Homo sapiens: one gene and its partner. The protein of the gene in region 1 interacts with the protein of each later gene in a biochemical or structural test. Each region holds a gene or a part of one and is shown on either strand. Other genes may lie near its edges.

What was found.
Region 2: the proteins of TNKS (region 1) and INPP5K interact in a test that uses a peptide from one of them, tested with the Homo sapiens proteins (one large-scale study listed by BioGRID and IntAct).

The regions. Positions count from the first base shown.
Region 1 is NC_000008.11:9,562,234-9,566,048, forward strand, and holds part of TNKS (poly [ADP-ribose] polymerase tankyrase-1), read left to right. Parts: intron 1-3,815.
Region 2 is NC_000017.11:1,506,521-1,510,335, reverse strand, and holds part of INPP5K (inositol polyphosphate 5-phosphatase K), read left to right. Parts: intron 1-536; coding exon 537-653; intron 654-982; coding exon 983-1,158; intron 1,159-2,109; coding exon 2,110-2,221; intron 2,222-3,246; coding exon 3,247-3,356; intron 3,357-3,815. UniProt on the Homo sapiens protein: Inositol 5-phosphatase which acts on inositol 1,4,5-trisphosphate, inositol 1,3,4,5-tetrakisphosphate, phosphatidylinositol 4,5-bisphosphate and phosphatidylinositol 3,4,5-trisphosphate.

The DNA of each region.
Region 1 (3,815 bases):
ATACTAGTGCTTTGTGGGATAAATGTGCTAATATTTTCTCCCAGGCTATGAATTACTGATTAATTTTCTTAATGAGAGTCATTTGAATAGAAATTTTAAATTTAATTTATATATTTATTTTATGGTTATTGCTTTCTCTGACTCATCACCTGGATAAGAACTTTTATCTGGCCCCAAGTCATAGAAGTTCTCATACATATCCTATGAAAATCTTTATGATTTTAGCTACATTTTATCAGATGTGACTATATCCACTTCAGTATTCTTATGCTGTGTGTGGCATTTTTCTATTCATTCACTTTCAATCAATCTGCCTTTATATTTAAAGTGTGTCTATTATAGACAGTATATATGTGAGTGTTGCTTTTTAAGACATTCTGACAATCTGTGTCTTTTAATCTACCTCATTAACTAATATTGATACTTCCAATTCAAACTCAGAACTATAGGGTTTTTACTTACCTCTTCTATGTTGCATCTGGCCATCATTTCTTCCATACCTAAACTTTTATTTTTCAAGGACCTGCTAAGAGCTGTTAATGTTGAAGGTCTGATGAGAATGGGAATTTCCTTCCCTTAGCCTTTTTTTTTTCTTTCTAGATGGGCAAAGGATTTTTTTTTTCTCTTCCATTAAAGACCAGATATTCTATTACAGTATGTCTTGGTGTTCGTTTCTCTAGATAGATTTTCTCAGGTATGTGGTATGGCTTTTCTTTACATAGTTTCAGATCTTTTATTTCAGAAAAGTTTCTCAAATTATACTTTTTATTATTCGTTCTTTTCTTTTTATGTATATTGAAACTTTGCCTCTTCTAAATTTGTTACTTGCTCCATTTCTTTAATACGATATATGTAAAATTTACCATTTTAACCATTTTAAGTGTACAGTTTTGTGGCATTAAGTTCATTCGCCATGTTATGCAGCCATCACCATTGTCCATTTCCAGAACATTTTTTGTCATCTTAAATAAGCTCTTGTACCCATTAAACTATGTCTATCTGCCCCCAAACCCCTGATAACTGTCACTTTCTTTTGAATCCTATTAAAAAATATATATCTTCTTTTTTTATTAACTTTTTTTCTCCTTTCATCTTCTATTTTTCTTAAGGCAGGAGTTGGAAACTTTCTGTAAATGGCCAGATAGTAAATATTTTAGGCTTTGTAGCCATATGGTCCCTCTCATAGCTACTCAGTTTTGCTTTTATACTGTGAAAGTTTCCATAGACTATATGTAAATGAATGAGTGTGATTGTGTTCCAGTAAAATTTTATTTATGAGAATAGGTGATGGGCCAGATTTGGTGTATGGGTTGTAGTTTGCTGACCTCTGTTATAAGGCATTATATGTGGCATTTTTTCCATTTTGTGTTCTTTCTTTTGTAGTCCTTTCTTGAAATTATTTTTTCTTTTATTTTGAATTATTTTCTGAACTCTCTCCTTTTATTTCTAACTCAGGCACATGCTATACGTTCATATCTTGTATCATTCTCGTATTCTCTTTTAGCTAGTGTTAAAATAATTGATTATAATTTTGTCTGCTTTGTGGGCATTTTTTTCTGTTAGGTATTAATTGTCTGCGGGGATGTTATTCTCCAAATTCTTCTTGTAAGAATTTTGTATGTATTTGACCTCAGTTACTTTCGTTGCTCATTTTTACAGAAATTAATTACTAAATAATTTCAAGGATAAAAATAAAGGTCTGAGATAGTTAAGGTAATCCCCCCTGTCCCTTTTTGTTGTGCTACACCTGCAGCTCTGGCCTAGAATAGATCAAGTCTCTCAGTAAGGTCTGCAGGATCATCTTTTACAGTAGTAGCATTTAAATTATGAAACATCATCATTTTATACCTCTGTTTATATAACCTATGAGACATTTTTTCAGGAACCTTAACCGGAGACATTGTGCTAAGGGCATTTTATAGATAAAGTCTCTTCCTGATAGATTACTATTTAGTCTTTTTGGTAAGTGTAGTCCAGTCACCTGTAAAGCATTCCCTACCCCATCAATGAATTGAATAGGTCACAGGCCAGGTGTTCTTTCCTGACGGGAAGTGATTCTTTGACAGTTAACAGGCCAGAGAAATACATTGGGAGGATAGGAGGCATATCATCAAAGGTCGAGTTGTGAGCATAAATATGTTAAAAAAAAAAATCTCAAGCTTAGAATCCAGAAGAAAAGTAATCAAGGAATGTGAATAATTCTGAGAAAATAAATTTTATTGTAATGTTAGGTTTGGTTTTGGAAAGGAATAAACATGAGCTCTGTGATGACATGAGGGAGAAAACACTATAGTAGTTTAGTCTTTAATATTTTTAACAGCCTCCTTTTGTGTCATAGACAAAGAATCTTTGGGTAGCTTACTATAAAATATTGCAGTAGATAAAATTGAAGGCAGTTGCTTCTTACCTTTTTATTTTTCCCCATGTCATTGTCCTTGAAGCTACTTTGGCTTATGTTTATTCTTCTGATAGCTAAGTTTTGGTGTAGCCCTGCTCTTGAGGCACCTAATACCATGCATCATTAATAGATACTTATAGTAAGAATTGAATAGGATTAGTTAAGATAAGATGGGTTGGAGTCTGAGGGCTAGGTGCAGCCTCCCCTTACGGGGCTTAATAAAACCAATGAAACATACACGAGAAAGAAACATTCAGAAATGGACTTTCAGTTTCTTGGTGAATAAAAAGCATTATATCTTCAAGAAAAAATGAGTAGGGTGGGTTTCCTAGGGATTTCTACTAAAGCCTAGGAGCTCAGGATAACCCCGGGGCTCATTAAAAAAAAAAAATCACTTTGATTTCAAGTAATTGAGGAAAGTTTTAGGTGTTTTGTTTTTGTGTGCCCGTTGTTTTTCTTTTAAGGCTTCATCAGATGTCTAAGTTTGCTTTCACCAGAGCGAGTTACTGAGTTCTCTTCTCGAATCTTGTTTTGCCAGTTTGTTCAGGTATCTGTTTATAGAATTAAAGCAGCGTGAGGGTAAACTTTTTTTTAAGCTGTTTTTTGGAGTGTGTCAGCTCCCCATTCAATTTAGACAAGTTATTTATTTATTTATTTATTTTGGTTTTGGAAGAGGGAAAATAACGTGATGTAAAATTTTTTCTCTATCCCTTTTGCCTTTTCAGTAGAACAAACTAAACTGCTGGTAGGTGGCAGATGTTTGGACTTGTTTATTTTTTCTTCTTTGGTATATTTTCTTTTAAAGTGAGGAAGCATTTGGTAGTTAGCAGATGATTTCCATGAACTACAAGTCCAAACTGAACAAAATTTGTTTTAAATTTACTGATTGACTCAAAAAACCTTAAAGCTATAGTCTCTGTGTCATTAGTTCAAAAATAAACTAAACCAGCCAGGCGTGGTGGCTCACGCCTGTAATCCCAGCACTTTGGGAGGGCGGATCACAAGGTCAGGAGATGGAGGCCATCCTGGCTAGCACAGTGAAACCCCGTCTCTACTAAAAATACACACACACAAAATTAGCCTGGCGTGGTGGCGGGCGCCTGTTGTCCCAGCTACTCGGGAGGCTGAGGCAGGAGAATGGCGTGAACCCCGGAGGCAGAGCTTGCAGTGAGCCGAGATCACGCCACTGCACTCCAGCCTGGGTGACAGAGCAAGACTCCGTCTCAAAAAAAATAAAAATAAATAAAAATAAAAATAAACTAAACTCCCTGATGCCTTGTTAAAGTGTGTGTATACACACTTTTTTGTGTCTACATGTATATAACTTATTATATATGTCAAATTATATGTTGACATATATATTATATACATAGTAAGTAGACATTGAAAAGTTCTGATGCCCTCATTCTGATAATAC
Region 2 (3,815 bases), on another chromosome or scaffold:
CTGAGACAGGAGAATCACCTGAACCCAGGAGGTGGAGGTTGCAGTGAGCCGAGACCACGCCATTGCACTCCAGCCTGGGCGACAGAGCGAGACTCCGTCTCAAAAAAAAAAGAATGCTGAAACCAAAAAATAATAGCTTTCAGATAATCCCCACAGCATCTATGAGATGGATTCCTACTTTATCAATGAGAAAATACACTGAGAAACTGCCTCAATGTCAAATACTAAGAATCAGAGCCAGGGTTTGAACCCAGATCTAACTTCAAAGCCAGTATCCTTAGCTTATCTTCTCTTCCCGCCACCCGCACGCCTAGGCGCAGAATCGAAAACCTCAGCCCCCAGAATGTATCATTTGGCAGCTGAGAAGAAGAATGGAAAGGCTTGAAACTCTGAGATTCAAACTGGGATATCGTAGACCCTGGAGCAGGACACTGCATGTAGCTGAGGGCTCTCTAGAGTCCCTAGCACGGAGCTTGGAAGGGATGCACTTGGCCTGTGTGGTTTAATGAGCGACCTTTGCCCTCTCTCTCCTGCAGGTCTCCCATGTCCGTATGCAGGGGATCCTCTTACTGGTCTTTGCCAAGTATCAGCATTTGCCCTATATCCAGATTCTGTCTACTAAATCCACCCCCACTGGCCTGTTTGGGTACTGGGTAAGGACTGAGCTATTGTCTGAGTCGTGAGCTGGGAAGGGCTGGGAACTGTGGAGCTGGGCAAAAGAAAAAGGAAGTGAAAGGAATCTTGGTCCTCTGTCCAGCCCAATGCATGTTTGTTCTTTTGCCTCAGAGTGGGCTTGCTATCCCTGAGGCCAGGCGAGGCGAGCTGGGCTCTGTGCATGGAGAGATCACCCTGGGAAGCTTAGTTACTGTCCCTAGGAGACCCTGCAGGAAGTGAGACTGTCTGCCCTCAGGTCCAGGATGTGGAAAGAGGGGTGTGTCCAACCCGAGTAGCTTCCCACTCTTCTGTTGACCTGTTCTACCAGGGGAACAAAGGTGGAGTCAACATCTGCCTGAAGCTTTATGGCTACTATGTCAGCATCATCAACTGCCACCTGCCTCCCCACATTTCCAACAATTACCAGCGGCTGGAGCACTTTGACCGGATCCTGGAGATGCAGAATTGTGAGGGGCGAGACATCCCAAACATCCTGGACCACGAGTGAGCCTGGGTCTGGCAGACCGTTCCCCGCCCTCTGCCCCACGCTAACCCCCACTAACCCCCACGAGTGAGCCTGGGTCTGCAGACCGCTCCCCGCCCTCTGCCCCACGCTGACCCCCACGAGTGAGCCTGGGTCTGCAGACTGTTCCCCGCCCTCTGCCCCACGCTGACCGCCACGAGTGAGCCTGGGTCTGCAGACTGTTCCCCGCCCTCTGCCCCACGCTGACCCCCACGAGTGAGCCTGGGTCTGCAGACCGTTCCCCGCCCTCTGCCCCACGCTGACCGCCACGAGTGAGCCTGGGTCTGCAGACCGTTCCCCGCCCTCTGCCCCACGCTGACCCCCACGAGTGAGCCTGGGTCTGCAGACTGTTCCCCGCCCTCTGCCCCAGCTGACCGCCACGAGTGAGCCTGGGTCTGCAGACTGTTCCCCGCCCTCTGCCCCACGCTAACCCAAGCCAGCATCCTCTGCTCCATCACGGATCCCCCAGCCAGTGTCGTCAGTGTTCTGGCTCCCACCCTCTCCCTGACCCTTCCCTGGTGCCCATCTGCTGTCTCCCCTTGCTTTGCCTGCCTGGGGTCCCCTTCCTCCAGCCCGTCTGTCTTGCTTAGAAACCCTGAACACTTGGGAACAGGTCAAGGACCTTGTGGCTCCTGAGGTCACCAGGAGGGCTTCTCAGCCTTTCCTCGTGACCAGTTAAGGAGAGGAAGGAAGGGCCACAGCCTGCTCTGTGTTTGCCAGAGCAGGCTCTTTGGTAGGTCTCTCCGGTTTGAATGGTGGTTTAGGAGCCATGAGAACAGTTCCAGAGGACCCACGCGTGCCCTGGCGTCTCACTTGCCCCTCAGGTTTTCTGTGCCCCAGCAGCCCTTGGGTTGAGCAGGCTGAGCCACCTGGTGATCTCCCTTCCCCGACTTCATCACAAATCCTCAGGCTGCCCTCCTTTTTTTCTGAAGCCTCATTATCTGGTTTGGAGACATGAACTTTCGGATCGAGGACTTTGGGTTGCACTTTGTTCGGGAATCCATTAAAAATCGGTGCTACGGTGGCCTGTGGGAGAAGGACCAGGTATCCAGTGAGGGGAGGGTCCCAGGGGGTGATCTGAGCCCACGGTGGGGGCCATGTGAGCTGTGCAGAGTGTTGCTAGATGCCCTCGCTGCTGTTTTCTTTTGCCCAGGTCTGGTGGGGGAGGCTGTCTAGCAGGGCTTCGCATCCAGGGGTGAGGCAGCCACGCCTGATCTTCACATGGAAAAGCCAGGGTAACAGACCCTGGATGTGCTTTAGAATAGAGAGTCAGATACAAAGCATGAAATGAATTATTTAAAAAAGAAGAATAGGGGCCGGGCACGGTGGCTTATGCCTGTAATTCCAGCACTCTGGGAGGCCGAGGTGGGTGGATCACCTGAGGTCGGGGGTTTGAGACCAGCCTGACCAACTTGGAGAAACCTCATCTCTACTAAAAATACAAAAAAAAATTCGCCGGGCGTGGTGGCACGTGCCTGTAATCCCAGCTACTCGGGAGGCTGAGGTAGGGGAATCGCTTGAACCCGGGAGGCAGAGGTTGCAGTGAGCAGAGATAGCGCCATTGCACTCCAGCCTGGGCAACAAAAGCAAAACTCCATCTCAAAAAAAAAAAAAGAAGAAGAATAGGGAACCAGAAGGGCTTTGCACCAGGTACCATCATGCGTCAGCCCATCGTGTCCCTGTCGTCTTTCCCATCCCCAGCCTCGTTTCCCTCTTGGAGGGTGAGGTGCCCCTTTGGAGAACCCTGGCTTCCCCAGGTTCCCCTCTGACACATGTCTGCTAGTGATCTCCCCTAGAGATGGAATTCCAAGTTGGGTCCCTGCAGTCTAAGGACTGGGAAACGGCAGACAGCTGCCTCCCCTGGGCCTTGGTAATGTTTCCGAAAGGATTCGCCTGCTTTCTGGTGGGAGTGGGCTGCTGAGTAGTCACTGGGGCAGTGAGGAATTGGAGTGGCATTGCTTGACTCTTGCCCCATTTGTGACGGCATGTGCTGATCCCTTGAATGGAGTGTGGTACTGGGCCACTGGGTCGAGACTACTGGGAGACGGGGACTATGACTTTGTCTGCAGCTCAGCATTGCCAAGAAACATGACCCGCTGCTCCGGGAGTTCCAGGAGGGCCGCCTACTCTTCCCGCCCACCTACAAGTTTGATAGGAACTCCAACGACTATGACACCAGGTGAGGAGGGAGTGGGGGGCCAGAAGGTCTAGGAAGTCAGGTTACACTGACCCTGCTGGCATGGGAACTGTCTCAGAATAGAAGTGTTAGGGGGGGCAGGAATTGGTCTAGTCATCCCCTCTCCAGAGTGGCACCTCCTGTCCACTTCATGAGGCGCTGACTCGGGGAGCCGTCCCAGATCTCGAGAGAGTGGGAGGAAAGCCAGTGCCAGCAAGGGCAGGAGAGGTGTGTAGGGGGTGGGGGTGTTACAGATAGAACCAGAGGAGAGGGTGGAGCAGCTGCCTCCTGACCTAGGAGGGACTGCACTTCAGCTTCGGGAAACCCCAGACCTTCTGGTCCCCAAACGGGGCAGAAAGCTTGGCCCAGCCAGTTACTGGTATTAAGGACGCCTGCCCCAGCCTGTGAATGGGTCAGGTCTTGTGTGAGAAGGTGAAGTAGTAGGTAGAGAGTTTCATCAGG